Regions from separate parts of the Homo sapiens genome. Here regions 1 and 3 are each linked to region 2. The links come from fine-mapping of genetic effects on gene expression. A gene starts in region 2. Each other region holds a variant in brackets. All regions are shown on one strand. Distances are between the middles of the regions. Region 1 overlaps SLC12A1 (solute carrier family 12 member 1). Region 2 holds the start of CTXN2-AS1 (CTXN2 antisense RNA 1). Region 3 overlaps FBN1 (fibrillin 1).

Region 1 (4,243 bases), 67 kb after region 2:
CACTGGGTCCCTCCCACAACACATGGGGATTATGGGAACTATAATTCAAGATGAGATTTAGGTGGGGACACAGCCCAAACCATATCATTCCATCCCTGGCCCCCCCCCCCAAATTTCTTGTCCTCACATTTCAAAACTAATCATGCCTTCCCAACAGTCCCCCAAAGTCTTAACTCATTTCAGCATTAACTCAAAAGTCCACAGTCCAAAGTCTCATCTGAGACAAGGCATGTCCCTTCTGCCTATGAGTCTGTAAAATCAAAAGCAAGTTAGTTACTTCCTAGATACAATGGGGATACAGGCATTTGGTAAATACACCTGTTCCAAATGGGAGAAATTGGCCAAAACAAAGGGGCTACATGCCCCATGCAAGTCCGAAATCCAGTGGGGCAGTAAAATCTTAAAGCTCCAAAATGATCTCCTTTGACTCCATGTCTCATATCCAGGTCATGTTGATGCAAGGTGGGTTCCCAAGGTGTTGAGCAGCTCTGCCCCTGTGGCTTTGCAGGGTACAGCCTCCCTCCTGGCTGCTTTCACTGGCTGGTGTTGAGTGTCTGCAGCTTTTCCAGGTGCACAGTGCAAACTGTCGGTGGATCTACCATTCTGGGGTCTAGAGGACTGTGGTCCTCTTCTTACAGATCTACTAGGCAGTGCCCCAGTGGGGAGTCTGTCTGGGGGCTCCGACCCCACATTTTCCTTCTGCACTACCCTAGCAGAGGTTCTCCATGAGTGCTCTGCCCCTGCAGCACACCTCTGCCTGGATATCCAGGCATTTCCATACATCCTCTGACATCTAGGAGGAGGTTCTCAAACCTCAATTCTAGTCTTCTATGCACCCACAGGACCAACACCACATGAAAGCTGCCAAGGCTTGGGACTTTCACCTTCTGAAGCCACCATCCAAGCTATACCTTGGCCCCTTTTAGCCATGGCTGGAGCAGCTAGGACAAAGGGCACCAAGTCCCTAGGCTGCACACAGCAGGGGGACCCTGGACCATGCCCAGGAAACGATATTTCCCTCCTGGGCCTCCAGGCCTGTGATGAGAGAGGCTGCTGTGAAGTTCTCTGACATGCCCCGGAAATATTTTCCCCATTGTCTTGGTGATTAGCATTTGCCTCCTTGTTACCTATGCAAATTTCTGCAGCCAGCTTAAATTTCTCCCCAGAACATGGTTTTTTCCTTTCTACTGCAAATTTTTCCAACTTTTTTGCTCTGTTTCCTCTTGAACACTTTGCTGCTTAGAAATTTCTTCTGCCAGATACCTAAATCATCTCTCTCAAGTTCAAAGTTTCACAGATTTCTAGGGCAGAGGCAAAATGCTGCCAGTCTCTTTGCACAGCAAGAGTGACCTTTACGGCCGGGCGCGGTGGCTCACGCCTGTAATCCCAGCACTTTGGGAGGCCGAGGCGGGCGGATCACGAGGTCAGGAGATCGAGACCATCCCGGCTAAAACGGTGAAACCCCGTCTCTACTAAAAATACAAAAAATTAGCCGGGCGTAGTGGCGGGCGCCTGTAGTCCCAGCTACTTGGGAGGCTGAGGCAGGAGAATGGCGTGAACCCGGGAGGCGGAGCTTGCAGTGAGCCGAGATCCCGCCACTGCACTCCAGCCTGGGCGACAGAGCGAGACTCCGTCTCAAAAAAAAAAAAAAAAAAAAAAAAAAGAGTGACCTTTACTCCAGTTCCCAAGGAGTTCTTCATCTCCATCTGAGACCACCTCAGCCTGAACTTTATTGTCCATATCACTATCAGCATTTTGGTCAAAGCCATTCAATGAGTCTCTATGAAATTCCAAACTTTTACGCATCTTCCTTTCTTCTGAGCCCTCCAAGTCTCTAGGAAGTTCCAAACTTTCCCACATTTTTCTGTCTTCTTCTGGGCCCTCCAAACTGTTCCAGCCTCTGCCTGTTATATCCAGTTCCAAAGTCACTTTCACATTTTTGGGTATCTTTACAGCAGCACCCCACTCTACCAGTACGAATTTTAGTCCATTTTCATGATGCTATGAAGAAATATCCAAGACTGGGTAATTTTTCAAGAAAAAGAGATTTAATAGACTCACAGTTCCACATGGCTGAGGAGGCCTCACAATCATGGTGGAGGGTGAATGAGAACAGCATGGGAACATCTGTCCCCATGATTCAATTACCTCCCACTGGGTCCCTCTCACAATACGTGGCAATTATGGAAGCTACAATTCAAGATGAGATTTGGGTGGGAACACAGCCAAACCATATCAGGACCATAAGACCACTTTTTCCTTACTTCACACTTTTGCTAGGACTAACTGAACTGAGAACACAAACATGTCAAGACAGGCAGGATGATTCAAGAATACTGGTGCGAAACCCAAAAAATAGATAGGGGAGAGGTTGCCCCATTTTTCCAAGCCTCTGTA[C/A]CTGTCATCCCACTGGAATGGTTCTAAGGTTACAGGCTTCTTGCAGGGGCTCATTTTCACATCTTTTTTTTACTTCCAGGCCCCAGTGCATTGTCTTAACAGGGGGACCCATGACAAGACCTGCTCTCCTGGACATAACTCACGCCTTTACCAAGAACAGTGGCCTTTGCATCTGCTGTGAAGTCTTTGTGGTAAGAGCCACTTCACCCCAGGGAAGTCCTTTTTCCTCCCTGCTTATCTTGGATTATTTTGGGTGAGGAGAAAAGGTACATGCAGTGACAGGAAAATAGCAAAAAAACAGTTTATAGGAGAGCCCTCTACCTTGATTCATAGAGCAAGGACAAGCAAGAGCCCGTGATCCTGAATTTAAACAGGTAGATGTAAAGCGTTTCAGATTTCATAAGAGACCAACTAAAAGTGACAAATATTTCCAAATGATGGCCTTTGAGTCAAGAAAAAGATAGCTGGCTCAGAAATAAAATGAAGGCATTTGGGGTGATAACTGTCTACAGAAATATAAAAAGATGGAATGAGCCAAATAGAGCACTATTATAGAGATTAACTGATGAGGAAAGAACCAGACATAATGGCCTTAAATGACAGCACATAGAATTTAGATTAAATATTTGGATAAGTTTGATGACATTGCAGATACTCTAAAAACTAAACCAAGTTTTTCATGCCTTAGATAAACATTCAGAGCTAAATGAATTATTTTTGCCCAGGAAATACATGGTAGACTAATAATAACTTATTGGTGAGTTTCCTAAGAGGTATTCAAAACTGGTGCTAGTAATTTAATCATAACTGTTGACCAATTTCTCAAGTGTGGAGAAAGCATTAAAATAATAATAAAATAATAAGCCAAAGGGTGCAGTGGCTCATGCCTGTAATCCCAGCGCTTTGGGAGGCCAAGGTGGGCGGATCACCTGAGGTCAGGAGTTCGAGACCATGACGATCATGGCAAAACCCTCTCTCTACTAAAAATACAAAAATTAGCCAGGCATGGTGATGCATGCCTGTAATCCCAGCTACTCAGGAGGCTGAGGCAGGAGAATCGCTTGAACCTGGGAGGTGGAGGTTATGGTGAGTCAAGATCACACCACTGCATTCCAGCCTGGGCTACAGAGCAAGACTCCATAATAATAATAATAATAATAATAATAAAGTCTAAGTCCTCCACACTAGCCCACCTCTACTTGTATTCCCTCTCTCTCTCTCTCTCTATCACACACACACACACACACACACACACACACACACCACTGAAAATTCTCAGCTATCAATGCATTTTTATAGTACTTAAGTACTTACGTATTCTTCAAACCATTTTTCTTCAAAGCATTTTTCTACAGTTTTTCTTATTGGAGCCACACAATAGCCTAGTGAAGCAGGAAAGAAAAGTAGCCCTGTTCCCATTTTAGTGATTGGGAAAGTGAGATTCAGGAAAATTAAATTATTGCACTGGATCACATGACAAGAAAGTGGCAGAGCCAAGATATCAGTCCAGGCCACACAAGTGTGCTAAGTGTCACGCCTTGAGGAGAAAGCCTTAGCACACTTGCATCCTTGGGAGTACTATTGAAATCCAGCACCACTACTTAAATCTCCAATACCTGCCAAGGAATAGGGCTGTCAGGAAGTCAGGTGACTTTAGAACCAGTCAACTCTGCCATGATGCTGGGGGCTAATTTACCACATGTCATCATGATCAGCACTTAAGCATTTCTTTACACTTGGCAATATTCTAAATGCTTTATGAAGCAGTTGTTCATATTCTCTTTCCTCTCAGTGCTTATATGACAGTAATTCAAACAATATAACTTAATGCAATTATCTGGTAGGA
Region 2 (4,243 bases):
CTTTATGGGCATTTACCATGGAGCCATATTTCAAGTCATAAAGTGACAAGTCAAAGTCTCCAACCGTGATAATAAATTATTGGAGTGGTGCTTATACATCCGCAGCAGAATCATGTAACTTAGTTCTGCTCCCTTGAGCTCGGCCTGCAAAGAGAATGAATGGTTATAGATCATAGTATGGAAATACAGACTCAACTATACCACTGGTCCAGACAATGTCAAAATCAAAATCAAAGGAATCAAATTCATAAAAAATTGTTCATACTGTACAGACAAAATGTTTACATGATTAGTCTCTGAACTAATTTTGAATAAATTATTTTTGTAACAGTTTGGAAACATACATAGAATAATAGATGGAATAAAATGATCTCCTTTCCCACAATCTATGACTGACTGCATTGCCAGAATTCAATATCTCTAGCATCTTGCTACTTTATTTTTATTTATTTATTTATTTTGAGACAATGTCTCGCTCTGTCACCCAGGCTGGAGTGCAGTGGCACAATCTCAGCTCACTGCAATGTCCGCCTCCTGAGTTCAAGTGATTCTCCTGCCTCAGTCTCCTGAGTAGCTGGGATTACAGGCACCCACCACCACACCCAGCTAATTTTTGTATTTTTAGTAGAGACAGGGTTTCGCCATGTTGGTCAGGCTGGTCTCAAACTCCTCACCTCAGGTGATCCTCCTACCTCGGCCTCCCAAAGTGCTGGGATTACAGGCATAAGCCACCACTCCTGGCTGCATCTTGCTACTTTAATTGGTCCCAAAACTAGTAATCTCTGGCATCACCTAGGAAATTGTCAGAAAAGCACAATCTGAGACCCAACCCCACACCTACTGAATCAGAGTCTGCATTTTAGCAAGATCGTTGAAGATTCATATGCATGTTATACTTCAAGAAGCACTGTTCCAGCCCAGAGTGCTAATAAAGAATGTGGCCCTTGGCAAGTTTAAAAAGGGTCAATAAAACCATGGCCATGGAAATGTCCCTAGAATAAGATATGTCTTTCAGTCTTTCATAGAGGGCAGTTAGTTCACCTACATTTTAGGACATCTTAATAGTTTAAAATCAAAAAACAACTTTTAAAAAATGTGGTCTTATATGAACTCTCAGTTATACATTGCCCATTTTTTTGTAAGACCATTACATTTCCTAAATCAGTAAATACTCTAAATAATCATGAAGTTTGTCTTCACTTTGTTATTGAATCTAGTTGCAGTTACATTACGTTTTCAAAGTATTTTCTTTAGATGAGTGTCCCAATTCTGTATCTACATTTCCCCCAACGACTCACAGTCCAGTAGTTATAAGGTGAATAATTAAGATTGTAGGGAATCTAAAAGTGCTTGCAACTTGTAGGTTCTGGATAGAGTCGCAAAACATAAATAGAATTGGGAACCCTGTAACTGAGTTTGTTGAAACGGCCAGACCCCTAAAATAAGGATAAAGAGCAAGGTTTCTGTTGTTGTTTTTTTGTTTTCCTTTGCTTTGCTTTGCTTTACCTTGCTTTCAACGTCGGTTAGGTTTAGAATCTACATATTCAACACTGTTTAGAAAACGTACCTGGCAGCTATCTAGAGCTTTATCAGAGCGTTTCCTGGCTGCTATTTTGTTGTCTTCTAGCTTGTGTTGGGGAGACAGGTCTCACCACGCACCATTTCAGCACTACGGACAGCGCCTAGGCGCCTTCTCCTAGAAACGGAAGGGGATTCAGTTGTGTTTGTGTGGAAGAGAGAAGGGAAAGAGTAGAGGAAAAGAACTCCAAACGACACATTCAGTCTCCAGTTAAATCAATACACCTTTCACTCCTGAATTTTCCTTACCGGATAAGAAGAAACGTGTAAGAATTTAGTGCCTACTGTTCTACTGAAAACGGCTGTCACCAAAGCACAGCAAAATGCCCGCAGCACAGCCAGGAATGCAGCAAAGAGAGCAAAACAAGGATTTCAGCAGTAAATCAATTAAACCCTCACTGCCTTAGTAAACAAAGATAATGATGAAATCTAATTGCTAACCTTCAGGGTGTGTCGTGAGAAAAAAAAGGAGTGTCTATTTTTTTCTTCCTCTCTTCCTCTTTCTTTTAGCAGAACTGAAGAATAGAGCCTGTTGCTGCTGGAGCTGATTCCCTTCCCCTCCTCATCTCCCACCTCCTTTCAGTCTCACATACACACACAGATGCTGCCACAGACACACGCGAGCGCAAATATTTACACACTGCCACACCGAAGAAATCCATGCACGTTTTCCTGCAAACGCGCGCGCGCACACGTACTTCGGCGGGCGCCCACGTCCTCTGTCTCACCAACAGACACAGACATTTACACTTCTAGGCCAGGAAAGCGCTAACCAGGGCCCTGTGACTCTACGCAGGTTCCAGAACACGCCTTCTACATTTGTTACTGAACCGATCAGCGAACACAGACAAACGTGCCAACACTTAAGTCTACTGGCTGGACTTCATCTCCATGGCAACAAGCATGGAAGGTGAGACATCGCTGTCTGCGAAGTAACTTTCTCCCCCTTCCCTCCGCATTAACTGACAGCGTTCCAAATGCAGGTCCAGATGAGAAGCATGTCCTCATTCTCTTGTATTTCTGAAGCAAAAGAGCGGGGGGTGGGGCGGTGGGTGGAGGAGCCAGTAGGTCTGATAAGTTCAAATTCTAAAGGAGAAACAGCACCCCTAATGCTAGCGCCACTGCTGATGCGGCTGCCAGGCGGGGGAAAAGTGTTGTGTACGTGCAGATTGCTGATGCTTCTCCCATAATGTTTTGTAGGAAGTTTCCATGCTTCTTCGGTTTAGTGCGTAGAAAGAGACCTGGAAACAAACAACGCAGAATGATGATGATGGTCTAGGTTTCTTTAATGAGATATCTGGAGAATTTTCAGACCAGGTTTCCCAGTGCGTTGGAAGGATTGAGTGTCAGAGTCCTTGAGCCATCCAAAGATTCTCTTAAGAGAGAAATTCTCTTAAGGTTGAAATCTGAGGGTTTAGGGGTGGATTCTGGCAGATCCTAAGGTCTGGGATCTCTGGAAAGCCCTGAAATTTATGCATTTCACCATGATGAAGACATCTAGGTTTGTAATTTAAGGTTTTCCTTTTATTCCAACACATTCGATTCTTAATGATTAACTACCTCTGTGCAGATGTGGTTTCAATAATGCTTCTTTTCTCTCTTTTACTGGGATATAATCTTTATATTTTGTGTGGAGTGTGTATATGTATGGAATGGTTCATTATTTTTTAAGCTTGGGTTTTCTTATATGTCTTATTTCATGAAATTATGAATGTCATCATTAGCAGTAGAGATTATTATATCTAATGACCAGTGCTAAAATACTTTCTACCTAGAACATCATATTCCACTCTAATAGTTATTATTTCAGGTTTATTGTTTGGAATACCATTACTAGAGAAATAAACAAGAGGAAAAACCTGTTGATTAAAATAAAACACAGGAGGTTCTTTCTTTAATGGGTACACACTTTTTAACATTAGTTTCTGTAATTGTGCATTGTTGCATGATTAAATGATTTTATCTGAAAGGTATATTTTTATATCTCTAGTAAGGTTATTTCACAGAAGACATAAACATCACTAACAATATTCATGAATATGAAAGGCTGCATATCAGGTATAAAAATACTATCATCTTTGCTTAACTGCTTACGGAGATATGATTTGTAAGTACTGATCATAGGAAGACTTTGTTTTTTACTTACTAGTTGCCAATTACAAAGCAACTTCATGAGATTTGGGCTATTTGATATCTACAGGAACACCCCTGGCCCAATCTTATGACTCATCAGTACTTAGAAATCTTGGTGCCTGACAATTGCCATGAAGGAAATGTACTTTCAACCAAGTTACTCATTGCCAAAGTACCTAACCATTTATTCCAGTGAATATGGCTCAAGACAATATTTTATCATTTGCATCAGTAGTATTAAAAGACACTTAAATATTTTAATCATTATATATATTGATCCTGATATTTAAACTGTGCATTGTTTATTTTACCCAATTTTGTGGTATAATATATTTCAAATAACTTTTACCACTACCCAATTTTACATTCTACTTATTTTTGAAAGTTCATTTTTTCTTAACTATTTTTATATGGATTTTTTAATATATGGTTTTGTAACTTAATCTAAATTTTCTCAGATTTCTTTTTTTTTCTATTTCCCAATAAACAGGATATTAAAATGATGCTTCTCTGGAGCTAGGCATTACAGTGT
Region 3 (4,243 bases), 350 kb after region 2:
AACAGTCTAATGTATTCTTTTTGAAACCTGGAAGCTTAATGTGCTCTTTAGTTTCACTCTTCATTGAGTAAAGAAAAAAGTGATTGCTGTTTATAAGATCTCAACCTGTGTTCTTGAGAAAAGTCAGCATGCAGTAAAAGGGATATTAAAGAAACAACAATTTAGTTTATTATAAAAGTATCACTTACTGTTTTAAATGAAATATCTTAACCCACAGATACATGATTATATGTGGAAAATCATTAAATTATGTTTTCTAGCCAATTTCAGTTTTGTCTTAGACCAGAATTTTCCATTCTCTTGATGTGTTGAATGTATTTTTTAAAATGTTTTTGAAAATCAAGATTTTTACATATAGGCAGAACTAGCTGTCTTGTTGATCATGATTTCTGGCCAACAGAAAATATAGACAAGGCAATTCTCCACTGGCTGTATACTCCAGGTCTGAAGACAGAATAAGCTCCTTTATGAACCCATTTGCCCACAGCCCCTCACATCTGACCCAAGGACTGGAAACACCAGCAAGGAGCAAGAGCCACAACCTGGTGGCAGAATCTCTTAGAAAAAACAACAACAACAACAACAACAACAACCAAACATGAAGAATTTCACTCTCAAAATAGCAATATAACTGCCATTGTGATTCAATGGGTTTTCAAAACTTTTCTTATAAAAAACATTTTTTTTCTTGGATGTTGAATAGCAGAGTTAGAAAGAAACAGGAAGCAAATGCTGGAAAGATCCAGATTTATGAAACGAATAGCAAAGCTAAAGAGAAGGCAGTTCATTATCCCCACCCCCCCAATTCCATTAGCACCCTAACCTCTGACAATGGGTCACTGATGGGCAGCTGAGGCAGTTAAAAGTCTAGCTCTCTGGTCACTGTCAACAAGTTCATGGGTATTAGCTAACTTTGTAATCCCAAGATGAACAAATTCTTCAAAACTCACTGGGATTTTCTAAAAACGGGAAAAATAAGAAGGCACCAAAAAACAACTAAACTTTTGTAAAATACTACAATCCATCCCTTGATAATTTTAGAGTTTCAAGGTGACTTATTTCTTCTCCTGACATTCAGAGGGATACATTTAAGGGCATCCAAAGGAGCTGTATGTTGTACATGGGAGCTGAAGGCCAGGAATGACAATATCAGAAGTGGAATTTATTGAAGTGGAATGTAATGGAGACCCACAAAACTGTGTGACTAAGCTCAAGTTCTGTTTTATTGCACATTACCCTTAGAATTAACATACAAAACAACGCCAAAGTATTATCTATTTGCCTCAGAAAAGCATATCCTGAAGTTTCTGAAAATATTGCAACTTGCTATAAAAAGTCCTGAGGCTGTCTAAAGGAAACAGATACAGGCTGAGAGTTTTCAATCCCATCAGTTTAGTGTGGAGCTGCCTCTGTTCACTTCCTCCTGTTTCCTGCCAGACATCCAGACAATAAAAGAATTTGTACAGCTGGAAGAACAGGAGTAAAAGCCAAAAACAGAGTAAGGGCTTCTACGGGAGGCAGGAGAAGCAGCTAGCAGGCGACATCTGGGGATATTTAAAACTGTGAAACAAATCCTAATTTATTTTGGACTTGTAAAAAAATGCAAAATGTAGCATGCAAAATGTCGAGAGAAACAATTTTCTTCAGGTCAATTAAGCACAACCCATGAGAGAGGAACTCAACAGTTTCAAATGAAGAAAAAAAATTAAGAAAAACATAAACTACCTTGTTCACAAACCTTGCTTTGTGTTTCTACACAGCACTGCCATAATGCACTGCATCGCTGTAAACAGAATCACACCACCCCTGGAGTCAGAGGTACATACAAACACCTCTGGGGTCAGAAAGGGGGAATGGTTGGCAAGAAAACATTCAGTAAGACTTCAGCTGCTCTCTCGAGAGCCACGTTCCTAATGCCTTAGTTGGATATCATGCAGTCAGCGAAATTGTGAAGTTATGTAGCTGACACTACTTTTCCATTCTCTTCAACTTCATTGGAGAATGGCTCTCCAGAGCAAATAAGATTAATCCATTAATAATTCCATCAGCCCGGGTTTACCTTGACAAGCTCCCGTGCGGATATTTGGAATGAAGCCACGGCGGCAGGGGTGAGGCTGGGCAGGACACATCTCACAGGGGTGGCCCCAGGCTCGGCCGACTGTGGCACAGCAGAGCGTTTTTGTGCAGACAATCCCGCTGAGTTGTCCCTGGCACATCTGGTTGCTGATCACAGTAAAACATGGGCCTGTCCTGTAATCTGAAAATAAAGAATAAAAATCTGATGAAAATCCAGAAAAGCAGGAACCATCATGCAGAGGAACAGCTGTGCTCCATCTTGCTTGACTCCAAATTGAGAAATGAATTTCAGGGACAGAATCATGCATCACTGTCCCT[G/A]TGTAAGGCCTTGGATAGACCATTCTACTTCTGAACCCGATTTCCTAACCTACAAAATAGGGATGAAAACATCAGTTGTTACCCACTTTGAAAACGGCATTGTGAGGATCAGGCGAGCTAATGGAAAACTCTTTACAACTGTGAATTGCTATACAAATGTAACATGGTAATATTATTATCCACTCATTACTTAAGAAAATATATCAGTGCCTACACTGAATCAGCTCCTATGCCTGATACAGATGCTTCAGTGACTAAAAGAGGCCAAATCCCTGACCTCACAGAGCTTCCAGTCTATTGTTATTTAGGGCTGAGAAAGCAAAGAATTTTGAAGCTTGCAGTGAGGCAAGTCATGGCACCTTCTTCCTGGGAGTTCCTTCAATAAAAGAAATGGTTATCTGTTTCTTTTGAGTTGGGGTCATCTTATTTCAAATACAAAACAAGCAAACCAACAAACAAGAATTTAAAATTTTGTCCATGCAAAACACATTAGGTTTTAATATAAAGAGTGAGGACACTGGTCTGAAATCATTGTAACCCCTAGGCAAAAGGACCATCTTAAAGCAAAACAGGGATAAGCTAAGTCCACAAGAGAATTTCCAATCAGAGCAGTCTACCACCAGCTATAAGATCTGCCTCTTTTTTTTTTTTCCTACAGAGAGAGAGCCAACAACAAATAAGAAAGATAAAGACGTAGTGAGCACAGAGGACCAAACCCAGGTTGTCCCCTTGTGAGAGAAATCAGGGCCATAATATCCATTTCCGTGGTTCTACAATGACCTTGACAGACAAGGGAGGCTGGGCTGGGGTAAGACTCATGGGCTTCTATCCACAAACCAACATTTGCATGCTTCCAGGTCATTTTCAGAAGTGTTTAGGTGCAGTGATCCCTGTGAGTCTAAAAATGGACTCAATGACCCCAGTAAGTTCCTTTCACCTGTGAACGCAACAGTTTTATGAAAATCACTGGCTGTGCTAATGAAACTACTGGGATGCTTTCATTATTTTCTTCTTTCTTTAAGTAGCTCATAGGACATCGCAGACATGCTATTTACTAAGGAAAAAAGGACAACTTTTCATTACAGTACCAGCAAGAGTCAACATTCTGGATCGTAACAATGTTTTGGCAATAGCTGAATCTTATCTGCTGGCATCCCTCTATCCTGTGTGTTCTCTCTTGCTTTCTTTTTCTTGCATCTCCACTCCAACCCCTCCCTTGGAATTTCAACTCCATCTGCTCCCCATCACTACGTGCTCTTCCTCCCTCTCCTCTGCTATCTGCAATGAACCACCTCTGTTCAATGGTGTTGCAGAAACAGCACTGCTCTGATGCCCATGCTGTAAGATCAACCTTCTGAAGAATTCCAAAAACAAAACTCCATGCCAGTCATATATGTAAAGAAGACTACCATATCCAAGCTATGGCAGCACTGGAGAGACAGACAGGATGGTCCAAATGCCGAGTCCCCAGTTCCCCAGCTCCCTCCCTCCATGCCAGTGTTATGTCCCACTCACAGGATGCAAGATAATTTTAGATTTTAGTAGTCACATATTAATTTTAATGTGTATTATGAAACAGCATAAATATATCAGACTCATGATTTCACAGTTATGTCTGCTATGAGGATGATGAATTGAAAAACCTTTTAATTCAATTTTTTAAAAATATTAAATACTAGTACAGGTGATATGCAAACAGGTCAAAAATTGTGTGAGTGATATCTACATGCAACCAGACTCACCATGCCAAAAGACAAGCCTAAGACCTCTGTGTCCCTCTTCTCTGCATGATATAGCCCCACCCACCTTTCCAGCCCTGTCTCCTGACACTTTCTCTGTTTATCATTTG

The links. PIP is the estimated chance that this variant, and not a neighbour inherited with it, causes the effect. A credible set is the group of variants that fine-mapping cannot tell apart.
Region 1: its variant is the best candidate, but not a certain one, in a credible set for the expression of CTXN2-AS1 in whole blood (INTERVAL, PIP 0.62).
Region 3: its variant is the best candidate, but not a certain one, in a credible set for the expression of CTXN2-AS1 in whole blood (INTERVAL, PIP 0.61).

What each region holds. Positions count from the first base shown.
Region 1 is chr15:48,256,724-48,260,966 of GRCh38, forward strand. SLC12A1 (solute carrier family 12 member 1) reads left to right here. Exons shown (of 27, transcript NM_000338.3): 17 at 2,477-2,588. Among named protein-coding and RNA genes, the nearest start is that of SLC12A1, 53 kb to the left of the region's middle. The variant C/A (reference allele first, on the strand shown) is at 2,398.
Region 2 is chr15:48,189,366-48,193,608 of GRCh38, forward strand. CTXN2-AS1 (CTXN2 antisense RNA 1) reads right to left here and starts at 2,344. Exons shown (of 3, transcript NR_184082.1): 1 at 2,220-2,344; 2 at 1,568-1,696; 3 at 1-144. It overlaps CTXN2 (cortexin 2), which reads left to right and starts at 2,300. Exons shown (of 2, transcript NM_001145668.2): 1 at 2,300-2,488. RefSeq lists an enhancer at 2,304-2,807.
Region 3 is chr15:48,535,552-48,539,794 of GRCh38, forward strand. FBN1 (fibrillin 1) reads right to left here. Exons shown (of 66, transcript NM_000138.5): 7 at 2,060-2,257. Among named protein-coding and RNA genes, the nearest start is that of FBN1, 110 kb to the right of the region's middle. The variant G/A (reference allele first, on the strand shown) is at 2,395.